Linked DNA regions of Homo sapiens. The protein of the gene in region 2 interacts with the protein of the main gene of each other region in a biochemical or structural test. Each region holds a gene or a part of one and is shown on either strand. Other genes may lie near its edges.

Region 1 (10,377 bases), on a different chromosome or scaffold from region 2:
GGAAAGTTTCTCCCTAAAAGCAGACAGCATCCTAGATGTGGACAGCTTTCCCAAGATCATGGATCAATACTTTTCTGCTATCATGAGACTCTTATCTCTCAATAGTTCCTTTGCTTGTGCCTCTATGAATAGAACTGCAGAAGGGGTCTCTCCTGTGTACTTGTGGGGTATACTTTTATTTGCGGAGAATTTCATAGTCAACATTAAACATGAACAACCTTATTGTACATCAATTTTAACAAATATAGCATACAAATGGCAAATAGGGGAAACTGTTGCAAGGAGAGGGAGCTCTCTGTATTATTTGTTCAATTTATCTGTAAAATTTATTAAGAAAATAAATCTATTAATTAAAAAAATTATCTGGATGTGATCAGGAAACATCCTGTCTCTTGATATATTTAACATATTAGAGCATCAGCTGATTCAATTTTTAGAGACATTCAGCTTTAGCCAAAGTGGTTGAAACCAGTATATGTATTTATTTCCCAGGTTATTTTAGAGTTTCTACTAATAACCTGACATTTATGCTTTTACAAACCTGTCAAAACTTTCAATTAAGGCAGAAAAATCACAAATGTCTGAAAGGAGTCCACATTACCCAAACACCTTTCATACAATCAGTATGCCTAACAGCTTTTGGCAACATTTTTGAAGTGTCTGGTATCTGGTGATCACAGTGTAGATAGCAAGAATATCTCCATCGTGTCAGATATTAAGGCATAGTAGGACATTATTCTTTACCAAAGTGATAAATTACTTCTAAGTATATTGAATTCAACAACAAAGAATGAATTTGCTCCATTTTTTAATTCGGAAAACAGTTTTTAAAGGCTCGCTTGTTATACCCGTGACTTTAAATTATAGAGTAAGAATGAAAACAAGATTTCTCCTCTCTTCTCCAGTGTCGGAAGTGTTTTCATCAGTGTTTCTCTACTACTATTTTAATGTTGACAGGAATGATGTCATCATGATATGTCTGCCACAGGTATTTTTTTAAATGCATTTTATCAGAGGAGTGGAAACAACTCATCCTAAGCCCTTTTTCATTATTAAAGACAAAACAGAACTATAATATAATCTCTAGGAAAAAAAAAAAAAAAACACTTCAGTAAGTTCCCACAAGTATACCTGAGTCTTTACAGCAACTGCTGCTACAAAACACTCGGAGAGATTGGCAAATTTCCAAACAATTGCTGGACATCACATACTGCATAATATAGGCAATGACTTAGAATTATTTGAAAAAATAATCTGGGTGGAAGCAAGGGTGTTAGTTTGTTCTCATGCTGCTAATAAAGACATACCCGGGACTGCATAATTTATAAAGGAAAGAGGTTTAATTGACTCACAGTTCCACATGGCTGGGAGGGCTCAAAATCATGGTGGAACAGGAAGCAAGACAGGTCTTATATGGCAGCAGGCAAGACAGAGCTTGCGCAGGGCCACTCCAATGTATAAAACCATCAGATCTTGTGAGACTTATTCACTACCACAAGAATAGTATGGGGGAAACTGTCCCTATGATTGAATTCTCTCCACCTGGCCCTGCCCTTGACACATGGGGATTACTTACTACAATTCAAGGTGAGATTTGTGTGGGGACACAGCCAAACCACATCAGCAAGTTAGGAATAGAAATTGATAATAAATATACAAGTGTGGGAGGAGGGATAGCATTGGGAGATATACCTCATGCCAGATGACGTGTTAGTGGGTGCAGCGCACCAGCATGGCACATGTATACATATGTAACTAACCTGCACATTGTGCACATGTACCCTAAAACTTAAAGAATAATAATAAAGAAAGAAAAAATAAATAAATAAATAAATATACAAGTGTGAGTAGAAAGTTAAAGGTAATACAGAAGATTAAGAAAAATAAATGGAGAGATGGTTTTGGTGAAGGTTAAAATTGAGAACTAAATTAAAGATGAACCCCATGCCACCAATTTCTGCTCCTTAGGTTTGTTTTAGATGTCAAGGACTGTGTTAAGAGAGACAAGAGTCAAATAGGCACTGAGTAGGCTTTGAGAATATTTTGTACATAACAAAGGAGAAATGTGAGAGCATTAAGATACTAAAATGTGAGAAGGATATTGAACTAAGAACCATTCTGACCCTGCCTAGGCTTTCATTAGTGCAGTGTTTAGAGACTAGGCAGGTGGGCAAATTCAAATATTATGGGTATGATACATTAAGAATCCATAGGCCAGGCACGGTGGTTCACGCCTGTAATCCCAGCACTTTGGGAGGCCGAGGCAGGCGGATCACCTGAGGTCAGAAGTTCAAGACCAGCCTGGCCAACATAGCGAAACCCCGACTCTACTAAAAAATACAAAAATTAGCTAAGCGTGGTGACGGGCACCTGTAATCCCAGCTATTCGGGAGGCTAAGACAGGAGAATTACTTGATCCTGGGAGGCAGAAGTTGCAGTGAGCCGAGATGGCGCCACTGCATTCCAGCCTGGGCAACAGAGACTCTGTCTCAAAATAAATAAATAAATAAATAAATAAATAAATAAATAAATAAATAAATAAAAATACAGGGCCAGCACTAGTATCCAATATCATGATCTCTAGTGTCATCATGAAGAAAACCCCATCTTCCACAAGCTGGACTCCAACTGCCTATTCTAGTATTTGAACACTTTCTGTGAATTGCGCTCTACACAAGCAAAATATAAGATTTTCCCTTCATATCAATGTCTTCCACTTAAATAGTCCGCTATTGCCATCCATCTTGGGCTGCTCTTCCTTGGATAAGCACAGGTATCATCACTCTTTTTGTGATAATGTTTATACAACAGATCTCTTAGAGTACCACCCGCAGCTTTCTTCTTAAGCACAGTGGAGTACAGAAGTGCATCTTAATCAGCCAAGTACACTGGTGCCCTTCTCCTTGTGACTAAGCACCTCAACATCCTTAACATCATGCACCTCTAATTTTCTCTTCCGTCTCCACTATTCCTAGGACATTCAATTAGTGGTTTTGAAATTCTAAAACAATCATGTGGGTGCTTACACAAATGGCACTGAACAGCACCATGGAGAATGTACTCAATAGCAGTTTTCTGAAGATGTAAACATGCTTTGTATACATGCAGTTTCTCAGGCCCATCTCAAAAAAACAAAAAAACTTTTTTAAAACAAAAGGCATAATGTTAAAATACAAATCATTGATAACATGGTTTTGGGGACAAGATAGGTTGACTATATTTTTAATTATCCCTATCCAAGAATGTTGCATTCTGATCATCTAACTCATTTCAACAGAACACACTATCTTGAAGAATGAATGTATTCTTCAAATATCAACTATGTTAGCTTTGTTTTTGTCAAGAATTAGAAAGCAATAAGGTTAAATTTTCAGTCAAGCCTATACTTAACACAAATCGATTGCACATTTCAAAATAGCTAGAATAATTTGAATGTTCCTAGTGTAAATAGAAGATAAATATTTAAGGGGATGGATATCCCAATTACCCTGATTTGATTTTATGAATTTATCGAATTATCACGTTATCCAAAAACATGTTCATCTAATATGTATCAATAAAAAATAAATTTAAAAATAAAAAATTCACAATATTCTTCGTGGCTAACTGAAGAATGACCAATTTATTTTGAATAGAAAACATGCAGACAGAAAAACTATCATGAAAATTTAAACATGTGAACAGAGGGTAGGAATTTTAAAACGGTAATTTTTCTTAGAACTTTAAAGTTCAAGAAAAATACCTTAAAACCAACATAAAGAATAGCAGGCACTGTACTAAGCAGTTCACCCACAGTATCATGTTTTAATCTCACCACAGCCATAAGGCGGTAATAGCATGCATAGATATCATTCCAATTTTTCCTGTTGCAAGTAACAGAAAACCAGACCCCATCTGGCTGAAGCCAGTAAGAGAAAAGACTAACAGGAGGGCCAGCCTCAGGACTCAAATACGTCACCAGGACATGGGTTGCGTCCCAGTCTCAGCTCTGCCAGTTCCTGTAGAACCCTCCTTCCAAGGTTCACAGGGTGGCTACCATAGCTTCAGGCCCTCACCTCATGATAAGACAGCAATACAACTGCCATTTCATGTCTGTTGCTGTTTCTACATTCAGTTAGAATTAAATAAATTTTCCAGTAGCACCCACAAAAATACTGAGTCCACCTGGTTGGCCTACCTAGATATATCGCCAGCCCTGATCAAGTCACTGGTCACGGGCCTGGATTTTCTGGTTCGCTTAGGCTAATCATACGTCCCATCCCAGGACTGAAGAAGTACCAGGGCTGTTGCTGGAGAGTGGCTAATGTCCCCTTTACAAATAAGGAGCTCATGGTTTAGGAAGATGAGCTTGCCAAAAATCACACACTTGTAAAATAAGTCAAAATTTGAACTTAAGTCTACTTATCTGAGCCCAAAGTCTTACAACCATTTATGGCTGTTATCCTAACACCTACGTCGCGGAACGGAAGAGTCCTAAGACTGCAAAGACCCTTCCTTTTCTTCTAGATCCAGTCTAAGTTGGTTGGTAATTTCTTTAGACCCTGCTTTCAGGGAAGTTTAAAAAAAATTACTTGCATTTGTATATTTTCCTTGTATTTTCGGCCAAATTTCTTCTAATTAAAGTACAACATAAGTTGAACCAACACAATAATTGTCATATTAAGAAAAGATAAAACAAACTTTACTCATTTCTGCTTCTGGGCATGGAGTGTGAGGGACCAGACTTAAGTTCTCAAACAACTACAAAATCAGACCAAAAAATACAATGGTTTCCAGGCACCGGACGACAGGCAGTGCAGGGCTGTGATCCTTAAGAGAAGGGAAGCAGCGAGCCAGAGTATCCAGGCCACAACCCAAATGGAGGCCAAGAGAGGAACAGCAGAGGATACAGAGGGAGGGTTCCAGGGGCCAAGACGCAATCCGAGGGGAAGCCCTTCCGGGGAGAGCTGGAGTCCTGGGGTGGCCTTCTCGAGTCTTCCCGAGCAGGTCTGTGCAGCGAGGAAACATCCGAGGCTGGAGTGAGCCACGCGGAGGAGGAAGAACAGCCCGAGCTCACAGGGGCGGGGAAGAGTTCTAGCTCGCGACAGCCCCTGGGAGGAACCCTGCACTATTTGTGGCGTCGAGTAAAGCACCGGAAGGCTCTGCTCAGGAGCGTGAACGACACCGCCCGCTGCAAGCCTGGAAAGGAACGCGTTGCCTCAATTCACTCCGATGTGTCACACACGCGGCTCAGTCACCTAGGGAGCAGGAAAAGGCCAGCGGGCCACGCAGGGCTCACCCGGGCCTGCATCCAAACGCAAACGGCCAGGCCCACGAAGCAGGAAACACAACCCGCAACGAGAAGCAAAGGGATCCACAGAGAAGGGCCAGGAGTCACGGACGACGCCAGGCAGTCGGCGCCTGCGCTTCCGCGAGCCAAGACGCCTGAGCGGCGCGGGGGGATCGGGGGATCCCCCAGAAAACTGCCCTCGACTAACAGCGCAGCGAAGGGGCGGTGCGCTCGAGACCCTGGAACGGGAACGACCACAGCCACCGCAGGGAAACAACCGGGGCCCAGGCCCAGGTGGGCGGGCGGCTGAGGAGCGTGGCTGCGCCCACAAAGCCGCCGGGGGCTGCGGACTACAGCGAAGCCGGCGCGGGGCTCGGCCCTCACTACACGAGGCCTGGGCGCCTGCACGCCCCCGTGCTTCAGCCCGCGGCTCCCGAACACCCCCGCCAGGCGATCCCCAAAAACGCCCGCTGCGCGAGCCTCGACGGGAACGCACCTGCGTCTAGACGCTGACGCCGTGCGCGGGGCGGGGGCCGGCGAGCATGCGCAGTGTGGTGTGGACAGGGCGTGGTTGGCAAGCATGCGCAATGTGGGCCGGGCGGGGCTGGCGAGCATGCGCAGTATGGGGCGGGGCGGGGCAGGGCTGGTGAGCAAGCCCGCGGGGAGCGAGCGCGGAGGCGGGCGTTGCTACGGCAACGGTGGGCGGCCAGGGAGTTGCCTGAGGGAAAAGGGGCAGACGTCCCTGGGTTCCGGTGTTCGCGGAGGAGTCGAGGCACGGAGAGGCTTCGGGGGAGGGACGGAAAGAAGGGTGGCCCGCCAGGCGGGCGGGGTCCATGGATTCGGGGTGAGGGCCGTCCGCGGCCTCGCTTTCGCCTCCTCCGAGCCGGGCCGGCGATGGCCGCAGCTGTGAGGCGAGGTCGGGTCCCGTAGCGGCGCGCAGCCTCCTTGGGGGACTCGGGGTCCTGGTTAGTTTCCACAGCTCCTTCTATCTGAGGGGTACGAATTTACGGCTGCCTAAAGCCTTAGAACAGTGATCCCACGTCGGTAATTTTAGAACCCGGTAGGACCGGCTGCCATCAGGGGCCCCAGGTGCAGGGTGGTGTCAGCTTTGAGAGGAATTGGAGCCTCGTCACCGCGCGCTTCCTGCATGAGTGGAACCTCAGAAAACGGTCAGCGGGGTTCAGAAGGCAGGAGATAACACCAAGACCCTACGTAGGATTGCATCTTTACGTCGTAGGCTTGGTCTCGTGTATTTTTATTGAGCGTGTTTAATTAGCTGAGGTTACTCGCTTTGGCACCCCAGTGATCGTTTTTGCCACCAAGCTCTGCCTCTTGAGCGTTTAATACTGGGATTTACAAAGCAACGGGTTCCTGTTAATCTTAGCTTTCAATACTGGGCAAGGGTTACGTTTCTAACCCTACCAGTGCCGCAGGCTCATTATATATTGAAGGACTCACCTGGTATTTGGTTTTCTCATTTATAAAGTGGAGTTGGAGTAGGTACTTGAAGGGTTTTCAATACCTTTAAATTCTGAATTTTAAACTCTAAAACTTAATGATACCGTAGGACTTTAAGAGAGTATAGGTTTTAAAAGCTCTTACCTTGATATTAATGACAGTGGTCTACTGTGTAGAAACTTGAGATTAAATTGCAGACTGCAGCTATGACCGGACCATTTTTAGTGTGATGCAAACTGTATCTTCTGCAGGTTATAGGCATTTTGGAAGCAGGAACTGAGAAAATTCTGGCAGTGATCTTTCAGTATTTTAAATTCCACCATTTCTCCAAGTTCAGTTGTCTTGATGAGATACAGGGTGGAACTTATTTCAAACATCTCTTGATGCCAGAATTGAACGGGAACAGAAAAGGGCTGTAGTAAGAACCATCATCAAAGCCTCCAGGACTTGAGCAGCGACTGACGTTTTTACTTCTAACCCTGGATATCTCAGAGATTTGGTTCCACTGTGCTTTTCTATCTCTCCACTCACGCCTTAGTGAGTTTGTTCTTTCGGTTGGAGTAATTTAATACAAGTGTTAGTCCTTAGAAATACATTTTGGATTAATTTCTTTCTATTTTTAGAGTTAGGCCCTCAACACAGTAAGTCTTCACTTAACATCATCCATAGGTTCTTAGAAACTGGAGCTTTAAGCCATGCAGTGTACAAGGAAACCAGTTTCACCATAGGTTAATTGATATAAATAAGAGGAAAGTTCCCACAGCACATTCCTGGTCACAAAAACATCGCCAAACTTCTAAATAAAGACCAAAGCACTTCTAATATGAAACACTGAAGTACATATGAGCTCTACATTTAAGAAATATCATTACCCAATTTCTGGTGAATCCATGAGTGACCGGGTTGTGGAGGGGCTGTGTTAAAGATAATGTTGGCCAAGCCAAAGCTCTGAAGCACCTCCCCCTACCATGCAGTTTCAAAACAAACAGGAGCCACTTCTCAGCCCGCTGGGCCTTTCTTACTGCATCGGGTATTGTCCTGCATCTCTGTGTGAATACCGTATGCTTTACGAGTTTTTATTTGACAATAATTTGTATCCTTTCATTTTCCAACCTGCTTATTCCAGTTCAGGGTGGCAGGGGGCTGAGCCCATCCAGGCAGCTCAGGACCAAGGCGGGCAACAGTCCTGGAGAGGACGGCATCCCATGGCAGGGCACACTCACACTCACTCAGACGGGGACGCCCCAGTGAGCCTCACGTGCACAGCTTTGGGATGTGGGAGGAACCCGGGGTACCTGGAGGAAACCCACAGCACATGGGGAGGACGTGCAAACTCCAAACAGACAGTGGCCCCTGCTGGGGATCAATTTTTTTTCTCATCAGCGTTATAGGGAAACAACATTAGAAGAAATATGTTCAAGGGCCTTCTGTGCCAGTTCCTAGATTACTTGAATAACTTTCTATTTCTCCTCATCACAGTATATTTTGAATACATCTGTCTTCATAAAATACACCATGTCCAAAATCTAAAAGGGCCAATTCCAAATTATTCCACCAGCTTTGAAGGGAATTGAAGCAAGAATAACAAGAGTAAGTTCTGTGTGAAAAGACCTACTTTAGATACTTCAAAGGTTGTCTCATTAATCCTTGCGGCAACCCTGCAAAGCCAGCGTTATTATACCTGCTTTATAGATGAGGAGCCTGGGGCTCAGCTGTGTCCAGTATCTTGCGCAGCAAAGCGGTAGAGTTCAATTGGAACTCAAGTTGGTCTGTCCCCATATTCTGTACTTCTGTGTTCTGGACAGACTGAAGTTAGCCAGTGTTCCTCTTGCGTTCCAGTTTCTTCATTGTTCCCTTTCTCCCCAAAATAAGCATATCATGCTGATTTCCAGCCTGCCAGTTCTTTCCTCCTACCTGTAATGTGCCATCTTCATTTCCCTCTGTGTATCTTTCAAATGCCAGTTTAACTGGTTTTTCCAAGTCTCCAGTGTTAGCCTGAAGTTTTGTAGTACTTATGTATCATGTTATATTTAGCAATGGATTAATTCATAGTAATTAACCATTTGTATTAATGTGTCCTCAGGAGCTCAGGGGTGAACTATTTGAGGACAGGGATGAGTCGAAGCATAACTGACTTGAGTTCACCCCCTTCCTCCAGAACCAGAATGTGTAGCTTAGTGCCACCCTGTAGCAGGCATTCCTGCTGCTTCAGGATCTGTTAGACTCTTACAGAGCATCCTCACAAACTTCATGGTTTTTCTGTGCACTGTAACTTTGACTTTCTGTTGACCACGTCTTTGCAGCAGAAGAATAGAAGGAAGGTGATAGGATGTGATGATAGAATTTGTGATAGCCAAGCAACAACTTTTCCTAATTCGGCATGTTAAAAAATAAGGTACGCTATTCTTTTCTTAAACATACACGTTATTTGACTCATGAAATGTATTTTAATTCAGCCATTTGAGAGTATAAAAACTAGTTTGCAAACCCTGCTTGAACTAGGAATTGTCAGCAGGAATGGGCGATGCCAAGTGTCGCATGGGGCAGTGGACAAGCCAATGGAAAAACAATCTCTGGCGATATTTACTGCAAGCATCTCTTAGCTGTTTGGTGATTTTTATTCTGCACAGGAAATTATTAAGTTTTCACAAAAAGGCATAAGCTGAAATGGCAGGAGTCTCCTTAGTAGTTGCCTGGAGTCTAATTTAATTATAGTGAAGCAGCGTGGGTTTGTTTAGGCATGCACAGGTTTATGGGTCATAATGAATTTATTCATATTATAATTAAGGCTTTCATAATTAAATGAAAAGATATTCCTGTATTGTTAACATAAATGCTGAGACAAGGGTCTGCTCCTACTTAGGTAACAATGAGTCAAGCATTCCTTACTATTTGATTTGGTTGTATGTGCCATCAAGGTTGAGTATTGAAGCCTCAGTTCTCTTCTAAATGATATATTACATAATACTCCTCTAAATATGACTTTTTTCCTACTTTTTAGGGTCACTCATCTAAGAAAGATAACTTGGCAGTCAATGCAGTTGCTTTACAAGATCACATTTTACATGATCTTCAACTTCGAAATCTTTCAGTTGCAGATCATTCTAAGACACAAGTACAAAAGAAAGAGAACAAATCTCTAAAAAGAGATACAAAGGCAATAATAGATACTGGACTTAAAAAAACTACACAGTGCCCCAAACTAGAAGACTCAGAAAAAGAATATGTTCTTGATCCCAAACCGCCGCCGTTGACTTTGGGTAAGCTGACGTAGTCATTCATCTTTTGGCTTATTAGGGCTAAAAAAATCTATTGAGATTAATAGTATAATTTTTTATGTTACAGAAATAACTTATTTATAATTATACAGAGAGGTGTGTATGTATTGAAGGTATGTATGTATTGAAGTTTAAAAATGATAGGGGACCATTAGAGCAAGAAGGTAAAGATAGTAATGGTAAGTAGAATAAGTAAAAATGGGAGAACAAAAGAAATATCTATTGATTCACATTGATAAAAATAAATAATTGAGTAAATAAATGATGGAAAAGAAAAATCCCTTATAGTAGAATGAATATAACTCATAAGGATAGTAGACGGGGATAGAAAATCACCTTTGGCAAACACCACAGTAATGATCATCAATACTG
Region 2 (9,514 bases):
TGGCAAAATCATAACATACTGCAACCTCCATCTCCTGGGCTCAAGCCATCTTCCTGCCTCAGCCGCCTGAGAAGATTCATTAAAACATGTTTCTTTCTCTCTTGGTTCATGATATGGTTTGGCTGTGTCCCCACCCAAATCTCAACTTGAATTCTATCTCCCAGAATTCCCACGTGTTGTGGGAGGGACCCGGGGAAAGTAATTGAATCATGGGGCCAGTCTTTCCCATGCTATTCTTGTGATAGTGAATAAGTCTCACAAGATCTGATGGGTTTATCAGGGGTTTCCTTTTTTGCTTCTTTCTCATTTTCTTTTGCCATCAACATGTTAAGAAGCGCCTTTCACCTCCCGCCATGATTTTGAGGCCTCCCCAGCCATGTGGAACTTAAGTTCAATTAAACCTCTTTTTCTTCCCAGTCTCAGGTATGTCTTTAGCAGCAGTGTGAAAACAGACTAATACTGTAAATTGGTAGCGGTAAGTGGGGCGTTGCTGAAAAGATACCCAAAAATGTAGAAGCATCTTTGGAACTGGGTAACAGTCAGAGGTTGGAACAGTATGGGGGGCTCAAAAGAAGACAGGAAAATGTGGGAAAGTTTGGAACTTCCTAGAGACTTGTTGAGTGACTTTGCCCAAAATGCTGATAGTGGTATGATCAATAAGGTCCAGGCTGAGGTGGTCTCAGATGGAGATGAGAAACTTGTTGGGAACTGGAGTAAAGGTGACTCTTGTTATGTTTTAGCAGAGAGACTGATGGCATTTTGCCCCTGCCCTAGAGATTTGTGGAACTTTGAACTTGAGAAAGATGTTTTAGGGTATCTAGTGGAAGAAATTTCTAAGTGGCAAAGCATTCAAGAGGTGACTTGGGTACTGTTAAAGGTATTCAGTTTTATAGGGGAAGCAGAGCAGAAAAGTTTGGAAAATTTGTAGCCTGACTATGTGATAGAAAAGAAAAACCCATTTTCTAGGGAGAAATTCAAGCCAGATGCAGAAATTTGCATAAGTAGCAAGGAACCTAATTAGGACCATGGGGAAAATGTCTCCAGGCCATGTCAGAGACCTTCACGGCAGCCCCTCCCATCTCAGGCCTGGAAGCCCAGGAGGAAAAAGTGGTTTCCTGGGGGCCCAGGGTCCCTGTGCTATGTTCACCCTGGGACTTGGTGTCCTGTGCCCTAGCTGCTCCAGCTGTAGCTGAAAGGGGCCAACGTATAACTCGGGCTGTGGCTTCAGAGGGTGGAAGCCCCAAGTCTTGGCAGCTTCCACATGGTCTTGAGCCTGCTGGTGCACAGAAGCCAAGAACTGAGGTTCAGGGCCAGGCACAGTGGCTCACGCCTATAATCCCAGCACTTTGGGAGGCCAAGGCAGGCGGATCACTTGAGGTCAGGAGTTCAAGACCAGCCTGGCCAACATGGTGAAACCCCATCTCTACTAAAAATACAACAAATGCGTGGTGGCGCATGCTTGTAATCCCAGCTACTCGGGAGGCTGAGGCAGGAGAATCGCTTGAACCCGGGAGGCAAAGGTTGCAGTGACTCAAGATCGTGCCATTGCATTCCAGCCTGGGTGACAAGAGCGAAACTCCATCTCAAAAAAAAAAAAAAAGAATTGAAGTTTAGGAACCTCTGCCTAGATTTCAGAAGATGTGTGGAAATGCCTGGATGTCCAGGCAAAAGTTTGCTACAGGGGTGGGGCCCTCATGGAGAACCTCTGCTAGGGCAGTGTGGAAGGGAAATGTGGGGTCAGAGCCCCCACACAGAGTCCCTATTGGGTCACTGCCTAGTGGAGCTGTGAGAAGAGGGCCACTGTTCTCCAGACTCCAGAATGGTAGATCCACCCACAGCTTGCACCATGCACCTGGAAAAGCTTCAGACACTCAACACCAGCCTGTGAAAGCAGCTGGGAGGGAGGCTGTACCCTGTAAAGCCACAAGGGGCGGAGCTGGCCAAGACCATGGGAACCCACCTCTTGCATCAGTGTGACCTGGTTGTGAGACCTGGAATCAAAGGAGATAATTTTGGAGCTTTAAAATTTGACTGCCCCACTGGATTTCAGACTTGCATGGGCCCTGTAACCCCTTTGTTTTGGCCAATTTCTCCCATTTGGAATGGCTGCATTTACCCAATACCTGTACTCACATTGTATCTAGGAAGTAACTAGCTAGCTTTTGATTTTATAGGCTCATAGGTGGAAGGGACTTGCCTTGTCTCAGATGAGACTTTGGACTGTGGACTTTTGGGTTAATGCTGAAATGAGTTAAGACTTTGGAAGACTGTTGGGAAGCCATGATTGGTTGTGAAATGTGAAGACATGAGACTTGGAGGGGCCGGGGTGGAATGATATAGTTTGGCTGTGTCCCCACCCAAATCTCAACTTGAATTGTATTTCCCAGAATTCCCATGTGTTGTGAGAGGGACCCAGGGGAAATAATTGAATCTTGGGGGCTGGTCTTTCCCATGCTATTCTCGTGATAGTGAATAAATCTCAAGAGATCTGATGGGTTTATCAGGGGTTTCCATTTTTGCTTTGTTCTCGTTTTCTTAATTTTTTTTTTTTTTTTTTTTTTGAGATGGAGTCTTGCTCTGTTGCCAGGCTGGAGTGCAGTGGTATGATCTCAGCTCACTGCAACCTCTGCCTCCTGGGTTCAAGTGATTCCCCTGCCTCAGCCTCCTGAGAAGCTGGGACTACAGGCACGTGCCACCACACTGAGCTAATTTTTTGTATTTTTTAAATTAATTTATTTATTTTTCTTTGAGTCGGAGTCTTGTTCTGCCACCAGGCTGGAGTGCAGTGGTGCGATCTCAGTTCACTGGAACCTCTGCCTCCCGTGTTCAAGCGATTCTCCTACCTCAGCCTCCTTAGTAGCTGGGACTACAGGCATGCACCACCACACTCGGCTAATTTTTTTTTGTATTTTAGTAGAAACGGGGTTTTGTCATGTTGGCCAGGATGGTCTCAATCTCCTGACCTCGTGATCCGCCCGCATCGGCCTTCCAAAGTGCTGGGATTATGGGCATGAGCCACTGCGCCCGGGCTTCTTTCTCATTTTCTCTTGCTGCCGCCATGTAAGAAGTGCCTTTCACCTCCTGCCATGATTTTGAGGCCTCCCCAGCCATGTGGAACTGTAAGTCCAATTAAACCTCTTTTTCTTCCCAGTCTCAGGTATGTTTTTATCAGCAGCATGAAAATAGACTAATACAGTTTGTATTACATGGGTATATATATGCATGTATAAAAGGCAAATGTAAGCATGCTTTCTGAAGGATTGATGATAAGCTATTTTCTTCAGTGAATGGAAGAGTTTGATGTAGAAACACCTTTTTGGCCGGGTGCAGTGGCTCATGCCTGTAATCCCAGCACTTTGGGAGGCCGAGGTGGACAGATCACTTGAGGTCGGGTGTTTGAGACCAGCCTGACCTACATGGAGAAACCCTGTCTCTACTAAAAATACAAAATTAAGGCCAGGCGCGTGGCTCATGCCTGTAATCCCAGCACCTTGGGAGGCCAAGGTGGTTGGATCACGAGGTCAGGAGATTGAGACCATCCTGGCTAACATGGTGAAACCGCGTCTCTACTAAAAATACAAAAAAAACATAGCCGGGCATGGTGGCATACGCCTGTAGTACCAGCTACTTGGGAGGCTGAAGCAGGAGAATTGCTTGAACCTGGGAGGTGGAGATTGCAGTGAGCCGAGATTGCGCTACTGCACTCCAGCCTGGGCAACAGAGCGAGACTCTGTCTCAAAAAAAAAAAAAAAAATTAGCCGGGCATGGTGGCACATGCCTGTAATCCCAGCTACTCAGGAGGCTAAGGCACGAGAATCGCTTGAACCCAGGAGGCGGAGGTTGCGGTGACTGAGATCGTGCCATTGCACTCCAGCCTGGGCAACAAGCAAAACTCCGTCTCAAAAAAAAAGAAAAGAAAAGAAACACCTTTGTAAGCACACATAAAGAATATGTTATTAGACAATTTTCCTTTTTCCATTAGGCCCTATGATGCCAAGTAGAGAAATCCAGCAATAAAAGGCAGATGTAAGCATGCTAACTTTTTCTTTTTAAGATAAACTGTACTTAGAATGAAATGCCCAGTGCTATCAATTATATATATTTTTTATTTTCTACTAAGTCTAACTTCCCAGGGTTGATTTTTGCAGCTTCCACTCTACCAGGCTTTGATATATTTTTTTTTTTGACATGGAGTTTCGCTCTTGTTGCCCAGGCTGGTGCAACGGCACGATCTTGGCTCATCGCAGCCTCTGCTTCCCAGGTTCAAGTGATTCTCCTGCCTCAGCCTCCCAAGTAGCTGGGATTACAGGCGTGCACCACCACACCTGGCTAATTTTGTATTTTTAGTAGAGACGGGGTTTCTCCATGTTGGTCAGGCTGGTCTTGAACTCCTGACCTCAGGTGATCTGCCCGCCTTGGCCTCCCAAAGTGCTGGGATTACAGGTGTGAGCCACCGTGCCCAGCCTTTTCATTTGTTGTTTTTTTTTTTTTTTTTTTAACATAGACCTAATTTACTCTGGGTAGTTTTCGGCTTTTAAAATTTTATTCTGTGTTGCTTATTTCTACTGGAGGTGATCATTAAGAAAGGGGTAAAATATCAATGGGTTGCTCTGCTCTTTTTCTTAGTCCAGAAAAAACGGTAAAAATTTATTGCTAAAGATAGATTCTGTTAGTATCTTTTTTTCCCCTACCAGATTTATCTTTTTTTTTTTTTTTTTTTTTTTTTGAGACAGAGTCTCACTCTATCGCCCAGGCTGGAGTGCAGTGGTGCGATATCGACTCACTGCAACCTTTGTCTCCTGGGTTCAAGTGATTCTCTTGCCTCAGCCTCTTGAGTAGCTGGGATTACAGGTGCTTGCCACCACGCCCAGCTAATTTTTGTATTTTTAGTAGAAACATGGTTTCACCATGTTGGCCAGGCTGGTATTAAACTCCTGACCTCAAATGATCCATCCACCTCAGCCTCCCAAAGTGCTGGGATTACAGGCATGAGCCACTGTGCCCAGCCCCTACCAGATTTATTCTAAGTGGCCGAGTGCAGTGGCTCACGACTGTAGACCCAGCACTTTGAGGGGCTGAGATGGGAGGATTGCTTGAATCCAGGAGTTGGAGACCAGCCTGGGCAACATAGCAAGACCTCATCTCTACTAAAAATCACAAAAATTAGCTGGGCATGTGTCAGAAGTCCCAGCCACTTGGGAAGCTGAAGTGGGAGAATCACTTGAGCCTAGGAGGTCCAGGCTGCAGTGAGCCATTATCTCACCACTGCACTGTAGACTGGGTGACAGAGCAAGAACCTGTCTCAGAAAAAAAAAAAAAAAAAAAGATTTGTTCAAAGCCCTAGCAGGCAAGATGGTGCACTCAAACCATCTGGTTGAACCTGGGGAGGTTGAACCTGGGGAGGAGACTGGCTAGGCAAGGGCAGAAGCCCAGCAGGGCACCAGAATCCCCCACCCCGGGGTTGTGTGTCTCCAGCCCAGCAGGGGCCTTGGAAGCTCCATACCTCTCACTCTGTCACCCCAATCTCTGGCTCTTACAGATGCGACCTAAAGTCATGTGGCACCTCCTTCGAAGGTACATGGCATCCCGGCTCCATTCCCTGCGGATGGGTGGCTACCTGTTCTCTGGCTCCCAGGCCCCCCAGTTGTCCCCTGCTCTGTTGAGAGCCCTGGGCCAGAAGTGCCCCAACCTGAAGCGCCTCTGCCTGCACGTGGCCGACCTGAGCATGGTGCCCATCACCAGCCTGCCCAGCACCTTGAGGACCCTGGAGCTGCACAGCTGCGAGATCTCCATGGCCTGGCTCCACAAGCAGCAGGACCCCACCGTGCTGCCCCTGCTTGAATGCATCGTGCTGGACCGCGTCCCCGCCTTCCGTGACGAGCACCTGCAGGGCCTGACGCGCTTCCGGGCCTTGCGCTCGCTGGTGCTGGGTGGTACCTACCGTGTGACCGAGACAGGGCTGGATGCTGGCCTGCAGGAGCTCAGCTATCTGCAGAGGCTTGAGGTGCTGGGCTGCACCCTGTCTGCCGACAGCACCCTGCTGGCCATCAGCCGCCACCTCCGAGATGTGCGCAAGATCCGGCTGACCGTGAGGGGCCTCTCTGCCCCTGGCCTGGCTGTGCTGGAGGGAATGCCGGCCCTGGAGAGTCTGTGCCTGCAGGGTCCCCTCGTCACCCCAGAAATGCCCTCCCCCACTGAAATCCTCTCCTCCTGCCTCACTATGCCCAAGCTCAGAGTCCTTGAGCTGCAGGGGCTGGGGTGGGAGGGTCAGGAGGCGGAGAAGATCCTGTGTAAGGGGCTGCCCCACTGTATGGTCATCGTCAGGGCTTGCCCCAAAGAGTCTATGGACTGGTGGATGTAACTACTCCACCTGCCCTTGGGACCCATCCCAGTTTTCATCATTGAGCCCCAGACCCTCTGAGCAGCACCTTGAAGAGGGCAGATAATCAGACTTGAGGAAACTGAAAGCCCCAGGTTGAGAGAACAGAGGCCTAGGGACCTCCAGACCATTGGAATCACTGTTTGCCAGCTGTGTGGCCTTGGTCATATCATCAGCCTCTGGGAAGCCTAGTTCCCACATCTGGAAATAAGGATGATCATAGCTACCTCACGGTTACATTGCAAAGCCTTACTCTAAAAGCTCCCAGCCTCCAGAGGCTCTCAATGAAGAGTCACCTTCATGGTCGTCTTCAGGAACAGGACGGATGAAGAAGGGGTGGGGTTAAGACTCAGGGGCACCTGAGGGTCTGAGCCCCCTTATGAGTACCCAAGAAGGACTGTCTATGCATGCACACCCACAAGCCTATACACCATTTATATACCTACACGCACGCAAGAGACGCGGAGAGATAGGCGATGCAGACTCGCGATTCAATGATCGATATGCTCATAAAAGTGCTCAATTATATTTTCTGTATTTTGTATGCTGTATTTTCCAAGACGTATATTATTTTACTATTAAAGAAAAAAATCATTTTTTTTTCCCGAGAAGTATTCAGTTTATTCATTCAACCAATCTTTCTTGAGCTTCTGCTATTTTGCAGGCACTGTTCTAGGTTCTGGGAAACTGGGCCACCACAGTGAACAAAACTGACAAGACCCTGCCCTCGTAGATCTCATAGAGGAGAAGACAGGACAACAAACAGGTAAGCCAGTCCATGCTTTAGTTTTTTTGTGTGGGGACAGAGTCTCACTCTGTCACCCAGGCTGGAGTGCAGTGGTGCGATCTTGGCTCACTGCAACCTCCGTCTCCCGGGTTCAAGTGATTCTCCTGCCTCAGCCTCCCAAGTAGCTGGGATTACAGGCACCCGCCACCACGCCCAGCTAATTTTTGTATCTTTAGTAGAGATGGGGTTTCACCATGTTGGTCAGGCTGGTCTCAAACTCCTGACCTCGTGATCTGCTCACCTCGGCCTCCCAAAGTGCTGGAATTACAGGTGTGAGCCACTGCGCTCGGCCACCATGTTGTAATTTTGGAGACTCTGAGCCAGTACACCAGGGTCACGTGATGGAGGCATACTTGCATGGTTGAGTGAGCACGGTAGGCCTCTGTGCTGAGATCTGAGAGGTGAAGAGAAAGCAAAGATCAGAAGAGCTAGGGCAGAAGAGGAAAGGCCAGCACTGCTAAGATGAGAATGAACTTGGCATTTTCCAGAAACAGAAAGAAGGTTGTGTGGCAGAGTGAGCAGGGGTAAGAGCTGTCGAAGTTGAGGTCAGGGCCGGGCATGGTGGCTCACATGTGTAAACCCAGCACTTTGGGAGGCTGAGGTGGGTGGATCACTTGAGCCCAGGAGTTTAAGGCCAACCTGGGACATCTGAGGCAAGTGAATCACTTTGAGTTCAGGAGTTTGAGACCAGCTTGGGCAACATGGTGAAACCCTGTCTCTACAGAAAAAATTAGCCAGGTGTGGTGGTGTGCATCTACCCAGCTGGTATCCCAGCTATTCAGGAGGCTGAGGTGGGAGGATTGCTTAAGCCTGGGACTCGGAGGTTGCAGTGAACTGTGATCACCACTGCACTCCAGACTGGGTGACAGAGTGAGACCCTGTCTCAAAAAAAAAAAAAATAAAACAAAAGGAGATAATGGGGACAGGAGTGGGCAGGGCCTTGCAGGTGGCTCAGGCTTTAGGGGTTCAGTAAGTAACACCACCTTTTCCTGCCTTTCGAGTCTGAACCACTTGAAAGATGCAGGTGTCAGATTATAAGTGTGAGTGCCTACCCGTGAGATGAGCGTTGCTGTGTGTGGCTAAGCCCCGGCTCTGTGGGTTCACCACCTGCTCAGCAGGCCCAGGTGCCTCCTCTGGTGCTTAGAGCCAGGTTGGAGAAGAGAGCTGAGCTGGGTACACTTGGTTTCTTATTCCAAGCTTACCCATCAGAGAAGAGCCAGAGATGTTCCTCCCATGCTCTTCCCACTCAGAGTTGCAGTAGAAATTCCTTCTCTTTCTGTCTCTCTTTTTTTTTTTTTTTTGAAACGGAGTCTTGATCTGTTGCCCAGGCTGGAGTGGTGCAGTGGTGCAATCTTAGCTCACTGCAACCTCTGCCTCCCAGGATCAAATGATTCTCCTGCCTCAGCCTCCTAAGTAGCTGGGAATACAGGCGTGTGCCACCATGCCTGGCTAATTTTTGTATTTTTAGTAGAGTTGGAGTTTCACCATATTGGTCAGGCTGGTCTCAAACTCCTGACCTTGTGATCTGCCCACCTTGGCCTCCCAAAGTGCTGGGATTACAGGTGTGAGCCACTGCGCCCAACCTTTTTTTTTTTTTTTTTTTTTTTTTTAAATAGAGATGGGGCCAGGCACGGTGTGTCCCATGCCTGTAATCCCAGCACTTTGGGACACCAAGGCGGGAGGATCATCTGAGGTCAGGAGTTCGAGACCAGCCTGGCCAACATGGTGAAACCCCGTCTCTACTAAAAATACAAAGATTAGCTGGACTTGGTGGCACATGCCTATAATCCCAGCTACTCAGGAGGCTGAGGCAGGAGAATCGCTTGAACCCTGGAGTGGGAGGTTGCAGAGAGCCGAGATTGTACCACTGCACTCCAGTCTGGGCAACAGAGAGAGACTCTGTTTCAAAAATAAATATAGATAGATAGATAGGAGGTTGCAGAGAGCCGAGATTGTGCCACTGTACTCCAGCCTGGGCAACAGAGAGAGACTCTGTTTCAAAAATAAATATAGATAGATAGATAGACAGACAGGTAGACAGACAGAGACAGGAGTCTCCCTATGTTGCCAAGACTGGTCTCGAACTCCTGGGCTCAAGCCATCCTACTTCAGCCTCCCAAGTAGCTGGGACCACAGGAATGTGCCACCACACCTAGCTACTTTTTATTTTTTGTAGAGATGGGGGTCTCACTGTGTTGCCCAGGCTGGTCTCTAACTCCTGAGTGCAAATGATCCTCCTGCCTTGGCCTCCCAAAATACTGGGATTACAGGCATGAGCCACCTCACCTGAAATTCCTTCTCCATCTGGCCACATGAGGACTAGGCTATGAGTGTGCCCCTGATGTGGC
Region 3 (10,204 bases), on a different chromosome or scaffold from region 2:
GGCTGAGTATCTCAGGAAGGGGAGTAAGGAACTGGTAACAGTGGCCCCTCTGTGGGGCAGCACCTGACAGCTGATGGAGCAGGGAGGAGGGAGGCAGACTTTTTTCTGTGCCCCTTTGCTATATTTTACATTTTGTTTCATGAGCATGTAGTGCCTATCTTAAAACGCACCAAAATTTAAAAAATACAAGCTCATTGCAAAAAGTCAAACATTGCATAAGAGGAAAACAGATCATCAATAATTCCACCCCCATCAGTTGTCTCATCGTGTCGGGGGCTACCGTTCTAGTCCTTTCTTGCATGTTAGAGCGTGCACGCCCACACACACACGCACACGCGCGCACACACACGCACATGCACACACACGCACGCACACACACACGCACATGCACACACACGCACACACACACATGCACACACACGCACACGCACACACACACACGCACACACACACATGCACACGCCTGGTACATCTGTTGTTCTGTAACTTGTTTTCTGTTTTTCTTTCTTTCTTTCTTTCTTTTTCTTTTTTTAGATGGAGTCTCGCTGAAAGTAATTATATTACTTACCCGAGGCCTTCAAATACCGCTTCCACTGACAGCCTCTTGACTTCTAGCAAATCTCACTAACCTTGCCTTACCTCCTACCACTAATCTAATAGGAGAACTCTGTGATTATGGCTCCATTCTCCCGGTCAAAGTGCTGGAGTGCAATGGCCCAATCTCGGCCCACTGCAACCTCCTCCTCTCAGCTTGGTTCAAGCAATTCTCCTGCCTCAGCCTCCCAAGTAGCTGGGACTACAGGTGCCTGCCACCACTCCCAGATAATTTTTGTATTTTTAGTAGAGACAGGGTTTCACCATGTTGGCCAGGCTGGTTTTGAACTTCTGACCTCAGGTGACCCGCCCACCTCAGCCTCCCAAAGTGTTTGCTAGGATTATAGGCGTGAGCCACCGCGCCCGGCCTGTAACCTGTTTTCTTTCTTATCCCCAGTGCCTGAGACACCCCTGGTGCAGAGAGAGCCCCTACAAACATGCTGAATAGCCTGCTCCACCTAATCCCTAAATACTGCACAGTAAACCCTTACGTGGGTGTGACAGGAGTCATTTAAACTGTCTCCTTTCTTTCGGATCTTTGGGATGTTTACAATACTTCCCTGTTATAGAAAACAGTGATGACTTTCTTATTCGTGAATGTTTAGGAAAGGCTGTAGGACCTTTTCGTCACAGAGAAGTATGTTTGAAAAACTTTTGCCACATATTGCCAAATTGCCCCCAGCAGGGCCATCCCGATTTGCCACTATACTTTCGTGTATTGGTAGCAGGAATCGCCTCCACACCTCTTTGTGGAAATCTGCAGCTCTCTGAATCCTTGGCGGGCATGGGCGTGCGTCTCCCAGGTGTGGCACGCGTGGTTTACACACCAAGCCTGGTTCAGCTCTGCCAAGAAACCAGCGCTTTTTAGAACAATGGCTTAGCCAGGAGGGTGGTGCTGGGTTTTTCTTTATCGGCTTGGGTGTGGAATCGCGGACTGCGCCCCTCCAATCTGATCTGGAGAGTGGCTGACTGCGTGTGCAGAGCTCTGGGGGTGTTGGTCTGGGATTGTGCCATCAGCTTTGCAAGCAAGTAAGGGAGCGGAAAAGGCCGGGAAAGGCCCTGCCGCGAGCACGCTGCCAAGAGCCCCCAGCAGCAGTTCGGCTTAGGACTCGGGTTGCGGCGGGTGTCACCTTCTCAGGGGCTAGCAAGGCAGCCAGGGCCCAGGCGTCTGAGTGAGGGGCGGGAGAGGAGGCGAGGCAGAAAGTGGACCTTCCAGCGGAAAGGCCATTTTCCCCAAGGCCGAGCCCAGGGAAGTCCCTTCCTATAGAATTCAGGCAGGGTGGGAGGCAGGGCGCGCTCGTGCCCCTCAGCCAGCTGCAGGTGCTCTCTGTCCCCAGGCGCCATGAGCAAGATCAGCGAGGCCGTGAAGCGCGCCCGCGCCGCCTTCAGCTCGGGCAGGACCCGTCCGCTGCAGTTCCGGATCCAGCAGCTGGAGGCGCTGCAGCGCCTGATCCAGGAGCAGGAGCAGGAGCTGGTGGGCGCGCTGGCCGCAGACCTGCACAAGGTGCTCAGGCTGGGCGGCCGCCTTCTGCCAGTGTCGGGGCCATGCGATGGGGCGTGGGGGGAGGGGCTGGGGAGAGTGCGACCCAGAGAGGTTCAGGAAGGACTTGGGGCCACCTGGCCCCTCGGTCGCGGAGACTGGGCGCACCGCCCTCCCCTCCGCCGCGCCCCGCGCGCCCCCGCCGCCTCTTCCGCCCTCTGGCCTTTTCCTCCTGGCCCGGCCTCCGCGTCCCGCCCGCAGCGTCCCCCATTTCAACTTCCTGCTGCCCCGACACCCTGAACTTCTGGTCCTCCCCATTCCTCAGCCCCACGCAGGACCACTTGGTTCTCCACACCAGGAACCAGAGCAGCTTGGCACCCCGGAGGGCATGGGGGGCTCTCCCCTCCCTCCCAGTTCTCACAGGGGCTGTTCCGTCCCTCACCCTGAGCAAGACCAGACACCTCTGCATTCGCAGCCCCCTGCTGTCCCCACATGCTGCCTGGGGTCCAGCGCTCCGGAGCCCATCCTCCCACCGACTACCCTCTTTGCTCCTGCACTTTTATTTTTATTTTATTTTATTTATTTATTTGAGACAGAGTCTCGCTCTGTCGCCCAGGCTGGAGTGTAATGGCGCGATCTCGGCTCACTGCAACCTCCGCCTCCCGGGTTCAGGCAATTCTCCTGCCTCAGCCTCCCCAGTAGCTGGGACAACAGGCGTGTACCACCATGCCCGGCTAATTTTGTATTTTTAGTAGAGACAGGGTTTCGCCATGTTGGACAGGCTGGTCTTGAACTCCTGCCCTCAGGAGTTCCTCAGGAGGAGTTCTCGGCCTCTCAGAGTGCTGGGATTACAGGCATGAGCCACAGCGCCGGGCCTGCTACTGCACTTTTCAAGAAATGGCTCAGGACTTCTCATCTTAAACCAGAAACAACAAGGAAACCCATTCTGTTGACTTTACAGCTTCTGTGTTGCTCTTCACAGCCCAAGTTTATAAAAGAGACGCGTTTTCCGCCGTCTGCATCTCCTCTTCTCACCCCTGCTCCCCACAGGAGGCCCTGAGCGCCCAGCAGCCCTTGGTCCTGCATCCCCCTCCAGACAACTAAAGGGCCTGGCTCCCTCCACCCTGCCCGGATCCAGCTCCCAGTGCCCGAATCTATCCCCCCTCCCCGGATCCATCCCCCCCTCCCCGGATCCATTCCCACTGCCTGAATCTACTCTCCCCTGCCCGGCTCTATTCCCCCTACCTGGATCCATTCCGTTGCCCATGCCTGGTCCCTTCACCGGCTCTCTCCCCTGGGGCCGCAAACCTACCTGGGCCCCCCTCTGGCAGAAAGGGGTCCTCTCAGACCCACAGGTCCAACGGCTAATCCTGGCTCTGCTTCCCCTGGGAGCCTTCTGCGGCTGCCCCCACCCTGGGCTGGGTGAGTGACCCCCATCACCCTGGCAGCTGAGCAGTGGGGCTCCCCACTCGCCCCAGCTGCAGGCGGGCCCTGGCCCTGGAAGCTCACTCCGGCTCTGTCGCTGCAGAATGAATGGAACGCCTACTATGAGGAGGTGGTGTACGTCCTAGAGGAGATCGAGTACATGATCCAGAAGCTCCCTGAGTGGGCCGCGGATGAGCCCGTGGAGAAGACGCCCCAGACTCAGCAGGACGAGCTCTACATCCACTCGGAGCCACTGGGCGTGGTCCTCGTCATTGGCACCTGGAACTACCCCTTCAACCTCACCATCCAGCCCATGGTGGGCGCCATCGCTGCAGGTGCATGGCCCTGTGGGAAGGGAAGCTGGGGGAGCACCGTCCCCCAGCGTGGAGCCAAGCCAGGATGGGCTCAGGCCTGTGTTAAGAGTCCTGGGGTCAGATAAGGGTTTGCTGGGTCTGTCACAGGAGGCTGTGGGGACCAAGCTGTTTAGCCAGGCCTCTTGGTGCCTGAGGTCCAGTCAGGCTCAGGTGTCCACACCTGGTGATACAGAGAGGGCCTGCCTTCCCCCACCCCTGTTGGGGGGCTGGAGCTTCTGTCACCTAATATGCATCAGGGCTTCCTTCCTAGAATGGGCCAGCGCTGTTCTACCAACCGGGCCCCCAGAGCCTCTCTCCCCTTTCTGCTTTTCCTCCAACATCTCAGCAACTCAGAGGGCCAGGTGGTGCAGCTCTGGCCAGCGTGTGCCCGTGTGTGTCCCTCTGTCATGTGCCCGTGCGTGCTCCTGGGTGTGCCCCGTGACATGTGCTTGTTTGCTAACAACTCTTCCATCCACTGTCCCGAGGACACACAATGGAGGGGAGGCTTCAGGTGTGGTCCTTGGGAGGGCAGAGCCTCTGGTGAAGTACCCTGGGCATAGGCCTGGCTCGGTGTGCTCTGCAGGGAACTCAGTGGTCCTCAAGCCCTCGGAGCTGAGTGAGAACATGGCGAGCCTGCTGGCTACCATCATCCCCCAGTACCTGGACAAGGTGAGTTGCCCTCCAGGGCCTCGTAACTCCATGGCCTCATAACTGAGCTAGGGCCAGGTCTTTGGGGGGTGAGAAATAGTGAATTCTTGCAGCAAGGGGCCAAGCTACTGGTGGGGCTGAGGATTGTTCTTAGCAGCTGCCCTCTCTCATTGGGGTGAACAGAGCCCCTGGGCCAGGAAAGGCGGTCTACTGCCAGTTACTGCTACCCCCCGCCCAAGGTGGGGTGCTGAGCTTCGGGGCTGCTGGTCTTGGCCACTGCAACTCACCCACACTTGCAAGAGCGAGGAGGGGCTTGGTCTTTGCTGAGCCTCCCCTCTCTCCTTGCATGGAAGGATCTGTACCCAGTAATCAATGGGGGTGTCCCTGAGACCACGGAGCTGCTCAAGGAGAGGTTCGACCATATCCTGTACACGGGCAGCACGGGGGTGGGGAAGATCATCATGACGGCTGCTGCCAAGCACCTGACCCCTGTCACGCTGGAGCTGGGAGGGAAGAGTCCCTGCTACGTGGACAAGAACTGTGACCTGGACGTGGCCTGCCGGTGAGAGGCACGGGCCTGCTGGCTGCAGCAGTCCTTACTCTGCTTTCCAAGCACACATGACTGCACCTCATGCTGTGGGTCCACTCTGAGTAACACAGACACCCCCTGCCTCATGGAGCAGTGGTCCTTGCAGAAACTTACATGGGGGTAGGGGTGGGGACCACATGCACAGAAGACGTGTGGGGAGTCCCAGAAGGCTTCCTGGAGGGGGAGAGGTCTAGGCTGAGCTCTGTTTGCTGAGTGCGCATCACTGGGGAAGTGGTACTCCAAGCAGAGGCTGCAGAAAAAGCAGCTGTGGGACGTTCAGGACACAAGGAACTGTACTGGGTTCAGCCCTCTGATGGGGCAGGGCAATCTGAGTTCTGGAGAGCAGGCCCAGAGGGGAGAAGGGCCACCGCTGCTCGGGGTCTGGGGCAGAACCCGTATCTGCACCTCCTGACCCTAGCCAGGGCTCTGACCACCTCCATATCCCACATCTGTGGCCCCAGAGATGTAGGGGGGCCCGAGTAGCAGTGACACCTGGCTGTGCAGGACAAGGGCGTGATCAGGGAGCACGGAGGTTGCCCTCAACAGACGTCCTCTAGAAATTCCCCACCAGTCGCCGGTGAACATGATCAGGGCCATTGGGTCTGCTCGGTCCAGTGTCTAGAAGTGAGCAGACCGCTTGGGAGGACTCACTGGTGGCAAGGTCACAGCCGATGGCTTCTGCTGACCAGAGAGCTCAGGGGTCTGCAAAACGAGATGCAACTCCTGGGGAACCTTTTGGATTTAGTCCAGTCTGGGATTCTCACAGACGCATCGCCTGGGGGAAATTCATGAACAGTGGCCAGACCTGCGTGGCCCCTGACTACATCCTCTGTGACCCCTCGATCCAGAACCAAATTGTGGAGAAGCTCAAGAAGTCACTGAAAGTGAGTGTTGACCCCTTGGCAGGGTGGGATGAGAGGCTGTAAGGCACAAGGGGGGCCTGGCCCCTTAACCAACTTCTACAGATTTGGAAACACTGGATTTATTTTCTTCTAATATAAACATAATGCAAGCTAGGCATGGTGGCTCACACCGGTAATCCCAGCACTTTGGGAGGTAGAGAGTGGAGGATCACTTGAGGCCAGAAGTTTGAGACCAGCCTGGGTAACATAGCAAGATCCCATCTTTACAAAATATGTTTTTAAATTAGCCAAGCATGGTGGCATGGTGGTGCATGCCTGTTGTCTCAGCTACTTAGAAGGCTACGGCGAGGCTGGAGCATTGCTTGGGCCCAGGAGTTTGAGGCTGCAGTGAGCTATGATTGCACCACTGCACTCCAGCCTGGGCAACAGAACAAGACCCTGTCTCTAAGAGAAAAAAAAAAGATAATGCACACTCACTATAGATTATTTAGAAAAGATTAAAAAGCATAAAGAAGAAAAAAGCTCCACCCAGAATCCCACCACCCAAAGACAGACACTGCTGGCCTGTGTCTGTGCAGCCTTTGGGCAGGACGAGGCTCTGCGTCCTTACCCGAAGCCCCCACCTCTTCTCCACAGGAGTTCTACGGGGAAGATGCTAAGAAATCCCGGGACTATGGAAGAATCATTAGTGCCCGGCACTTCCAGAGGGTGATGGGCCTGATTGAGGGCCAGAAGGTGGCTTATGGGGGCACCGGGGATGCCGCCACTCGCTACATAGGTGCGTGACCCCTGAAGAGCACAGCCCACCTGCCCAGGCTGCAGGGGTCCCCAGCAAGTTCACAGCAAGTGGGCACAGATGCTTGATAAGCGGACACGACCTCGGGATGGGTATAAATTGCTTTCACCAGGGAGCCTGCGGTAGACTCCAGCAGGCAGGGGCTGAGGACAGCCCCTGCTTCAACCTCAGAATCCCCTCTCCCAGCAAAGGCCCAGAAAGAGGGGCCTCATCTCCCTGCCCCTCTGAAGCAGCAGGAGCAGGGACAGCAGAAGCCACAGGAGCCCCAGGTGTGCCCAGCCGTGAGGGGCCCCCAGTGCCCAGGCTGTGGGTCACCAGATGGGACCCTCTTGGCCCCGAGTTTGTCAAGGAGACAAGAGAATTCTGGCAGGGCATCAGGTGGCCGGCAGGTGCAGTGCCTGCTCCTGGAGACAGATCTCGGGTCCTTCCGTACAGGTTAACCTATAGTTGTCCCCAGTGGTCTGCTCAGATGGCATCCAGGACGCAGGTGCCTAGGGTACCTCTCTGAGGCCTCGTCCCTGCCCTTTTCCAAGCCTGGGCAGGTTTGCCTGGAAAAGGGTTGGAGCAGGGGTCTAGGTGCTTGCACTTTCCATCCGCGTGGGGGTCTCTGCGCCGTCCAACTCTGGCTTGTTTCCTGCCTCAGCCCCCACCATCCTCACGGACGTGGACCCCCAGTCCCCGGTGATGCAAGAGGAGATCTTCGGGCCTGTGCTGCCCATCGTGTGCGTGCGCAGCCTGGAGGAGGCCATCCAGTTCATCAACCAGCGTGAGAAGCCCCTGGCCCTCTACATGTTCTCCAGCAACGACAAGGTGGGTGGTGGGCCTGGGGTGCCCTCTGCCAGGGTCCTGGGGCCCACAGACCTGGGTTCAAACTGCAGCTTCACTGTTCTCTGGCTGTGTGACCTTGGGCAAGTCACTGGATCTTTCTGAGCTCCTTTCACCTCGTCTGTAAGATCAGGACAGCAGCATCACCTGAGGGCACTGAATGAGCGATCCTTGCCCAGGGCCCTGCACACAGGCATGGGGGCGGCTGCTGTCACTCTTTGCTCATGTGGTGCTGACAGCCACGCGGTCTGCAGGAAGAGCAGGAGATGGAGGCTAAGGCTCTGCCTCCACCTGCTCCTGTCCTTGTGGCTCCAGGCTATACCCAGGCAGGGTCGGGTTGGGGGCTGGGGCATCCTGTGGGCAGGAGACTGAGGCCAGTGGCTGGGTCCTGGTGCAGGTGATTAAGAAGATGATTGCAGAGACATCCAGTGGTGGGGTGGCGGCCAACGATGTCATCGTCCACATCACCTTGCACTCTCTGCCCTTCGGGGGCGTGGGTGAGTCTGGGGCTGAGCTTGCTGCCTCCCTCTGGGCCCCAGGGCTGGGCACACTCACCCAGCAAATTCAGGAGGGACCACCTCCTGCAGCCCGGGCGGCAGCCTCCCATTAGCCTCTTCCATTTGGACCTTGGCCTCTGCGTGCCATCCATCAGACACACTTAACCTGGGAGCCTAGAGGTTCCTAGAGGTCACCTGGTGCACCGGCCTATTTCATGGAGGCCTGAGAAAGGTGACCCAGGCCAGAGGTCACACAGCCATTTAGTGGCAGAGCTGGGATTAGACCCTTGCTGGGCACTCCCACAGTGTGGATGCCCTGGGGACACCCTAGACATTGGCCACCCTCAGGAGGCCCAGAAAAGGGCCACAACCTGGGGCTGGGTGCTGAGGGCCATAGGATTTGAGGGAAGGATGGGTGATGGTGGCTGGGGCTCTGCCTCCCTGTCCCTGTGGTTCTGGGATACACCCAACAAGGTGGAGAGGGAAACCTGGGGCGTCCTGGGGGCAGGATGCTGAGCCCTGTGCTTACTTCTCCTCCGCAGGGAACAGCGGCATGGGATCCTACCATGGCAAGAAGAGCTTCGAGACTTTCTCTCACCGCCGCTCTTGCCTGGTGAGGCCTCTGATGAATGATGAAGGCCTGAAGGTCAGATACCCCCCGAGCCCGGCCAAGGTGAGAGGGGGAAGGCGCTGTGGGGGAGACCGGGCTGTGCGGGACCAGGGCCTGGGGATCACTGCCCACTCCGTGTCCCTTTCACAGATGACCCAGCACTGAGGAGGGGTTGCTCCGCCTGGCCTGGCCATACTGTGTCCCATCGGAGTGCGGACCACCCTCACTGGCTCTCCTGGCCCTGGGAGAATCGCTCCTGCAGCCCCAGCCCAGCCCCACTCCTCTGCTGACCTGCTGACCTGTGCACACCCCACTCCCACATGGGCCCAGGCCTCACCATTCCAAGTCTCCACCCCTTTCTAGACCAATAAAGAGACGAATACAATTTTCTAACTCAGCAAATGCAGGCATATGGCACTTCTTTTGTAGCCCTGCACCCACCGACCTGTCCTGCCTGATCCCACTGCCCCACGCAGTGTGGTCACTGATGTACCAGCAAAGGCCTCTCATCAGCTGGTGGGGCCTTGTGCCAGGAGGCCATGCACGGTGTCAGGGTGACACTTGTCTTCCTTTTAGACTTGGGGAGGTCAGCTCCATCTCTGGTGTGTCCAGCCAAGGAGAGCCTGAGGAGGCTGGGCCTTGTCGGCACAGTGGCTCAGATATGGGGAGCTGATGCCGTCTCTTCCCAGACTAGCTTCACTATCTCGGGCAGGGGCCACTTTGTGAGACGATGCAGTAGTCAACACAAAACGCCCTGGTGATGTCATAGTGCTGCTCGTGGGGGCAAAGGACCCGAGGCCAGGCAGCACCAGCACCCACGGTGCCTCAACTGCATGGCGTTGGGCTGCAGCTGGCCCAGAGTCCCGCCCCAGAGGCCTGAGGAGCCAGGACAGGGTCTGGCAAGGGGAGTCTGAAGCTGGGTGTTCTGGGGGCTGGTTAGACTCAGAGCCAGGAAGCCTCCCAGCCTGGGCCTGGCAGGTAAGGGGAGGCTGCTGGGGGAGACCTGCTGAGGCTGGGCCTGTCCCTCAGGGTCCTCTACACAGACTCTCCTGGTATCATGCAGGAAAGCCCTCCCGGCTTTTGCTGAGATTTCCTTGTGAAAACATAGAGTTTTGTGCCACCACCAACAGGTGTGCCTGGCCCCACCTGTGCCTGCTCCCAGCAAAAGCCCACCCTCCACCTGGCCCGTGCCCCGCCACCACCACCCCCTTCCCACTCCTGACCTTACTCTCTCTCCTGCATCTTCAGTTTCCCCTTCTGTCCTGGACCATTCCTATTCTCTAGTGTCTTGAACCTTATTCCAAGTCCCCCAGACCCCAAATGCAACCAGAAAAACCGTTAAGTGTTACCTGTGCTTCCTTCCCTCCAGTGAGGGGGTGGGAGCAGGAGCAGAGAGGAAACTGTTTTCTTATGTTTTGTTTTGTTTGGATGTTTCCCGCGTGCACCTGTGACTTATTGTATACCCAGAGAATTGAGCCAAACTAAATCTTGGCTGGGAGTGGTGGCTCATGCCTATAATCCCAG

The links.
Region 1: the proteins of FBXL12 (region 2) and RNF32 form a complex in vitro, tested with the Homo sapiens proteins (one study listed by BioGRID and IntAct).
Region 3: of the proteins of FBXL12 (region 2) and ALDH3A1, one has a biochemical effect on the other in vitro, tested with the Homo sapiens proteins (one study listed by BioGRID).

What each region holds. Positions count from the first base shown.
Region 1 is NC_000007.14:156,634,771-156,645,147, forward strand, and holds the start of RNF32 (RING finger protein 32), read left to right. Parts: upstream 1-6,003; 5' UTR 6,004-6,041; exon of another isoform or gene 6,042-7,264; intron 7,265-8,206; exon of another isoform or gene 8,207-8,317; intron 8,318-9,030; 5' UTR 9,031-9,107; coding exon 9,108-9,122; intron 9,123-9,728; coding exon 9,729-9,987; intron 9,988-10,377. UniProt on the Homo sapiens protein: May play a role in sperm formation.
Region 2 is NC_000019.10:9,807,743-9,817,256, reverse strand, and holds the end of FBXL12 (F-box/LRR-repeat protein 12), read left to right. Parts: exon of another isoform or gene 1-3,086; coding exon of another isoform or gene 3,087-3,119; intron 3,120-3,982; exon of another isoform or gene 3,983-4,026; intron 4,027-5,539; coding exon 5,540-6,361; 3' UTR 6,362-6,987; downstream 6,988-9,514. UniProt on the Homo sapiens protein: Substrate-recognition component of the SCF (SKP1-CUL1-F-box protein)-type E3 ubiquitin ligase complex.
Region 3 is NC_000017.11:19,736,862-19,747,065, reverse strand, and holds the end of ALDH3A1 (aldehyde dehydrogenase, dimeric NADP-preferring), read left to right. Parts: intron 1-1,453; exon of another isoform or gene 1,454-1,931; 5' UTR 1,932-1,936; coding exon 1,937-2,098; exon of another isoform or gene 2,099-3,496; intron 3,497-3,602; coding exon 3,603-3,834; coding exon of another isoform or gene 3,835-4,435; coding exon 4,436-4,521; intron 4,522-4,853; coding exon 4,854-5,062; intron 5,063-5,855; coding exon 5,856-5,973; intron 5,974-6,588; coding exon 6,589-6,730; intron 6,731-7,391; coding exon 7,392-7,558; intron 7,559-7,970; coding exon 7,971-8,070; intron 8,071-8,612; coding exon 8,613-8,743; intron 8,744-8,830; coding exon 8,831-8,845; 3' UTR 8,846-9,077; downstream 9,078-10,204. UniProt on the Homo sapiens protein: ALDHs play a major role in the detoxification of alcohol-derived acetaldehyde. They are involved in the metabolism of corticosteroids, biogenic amines, neurotransmitters, and lipid peroxidation.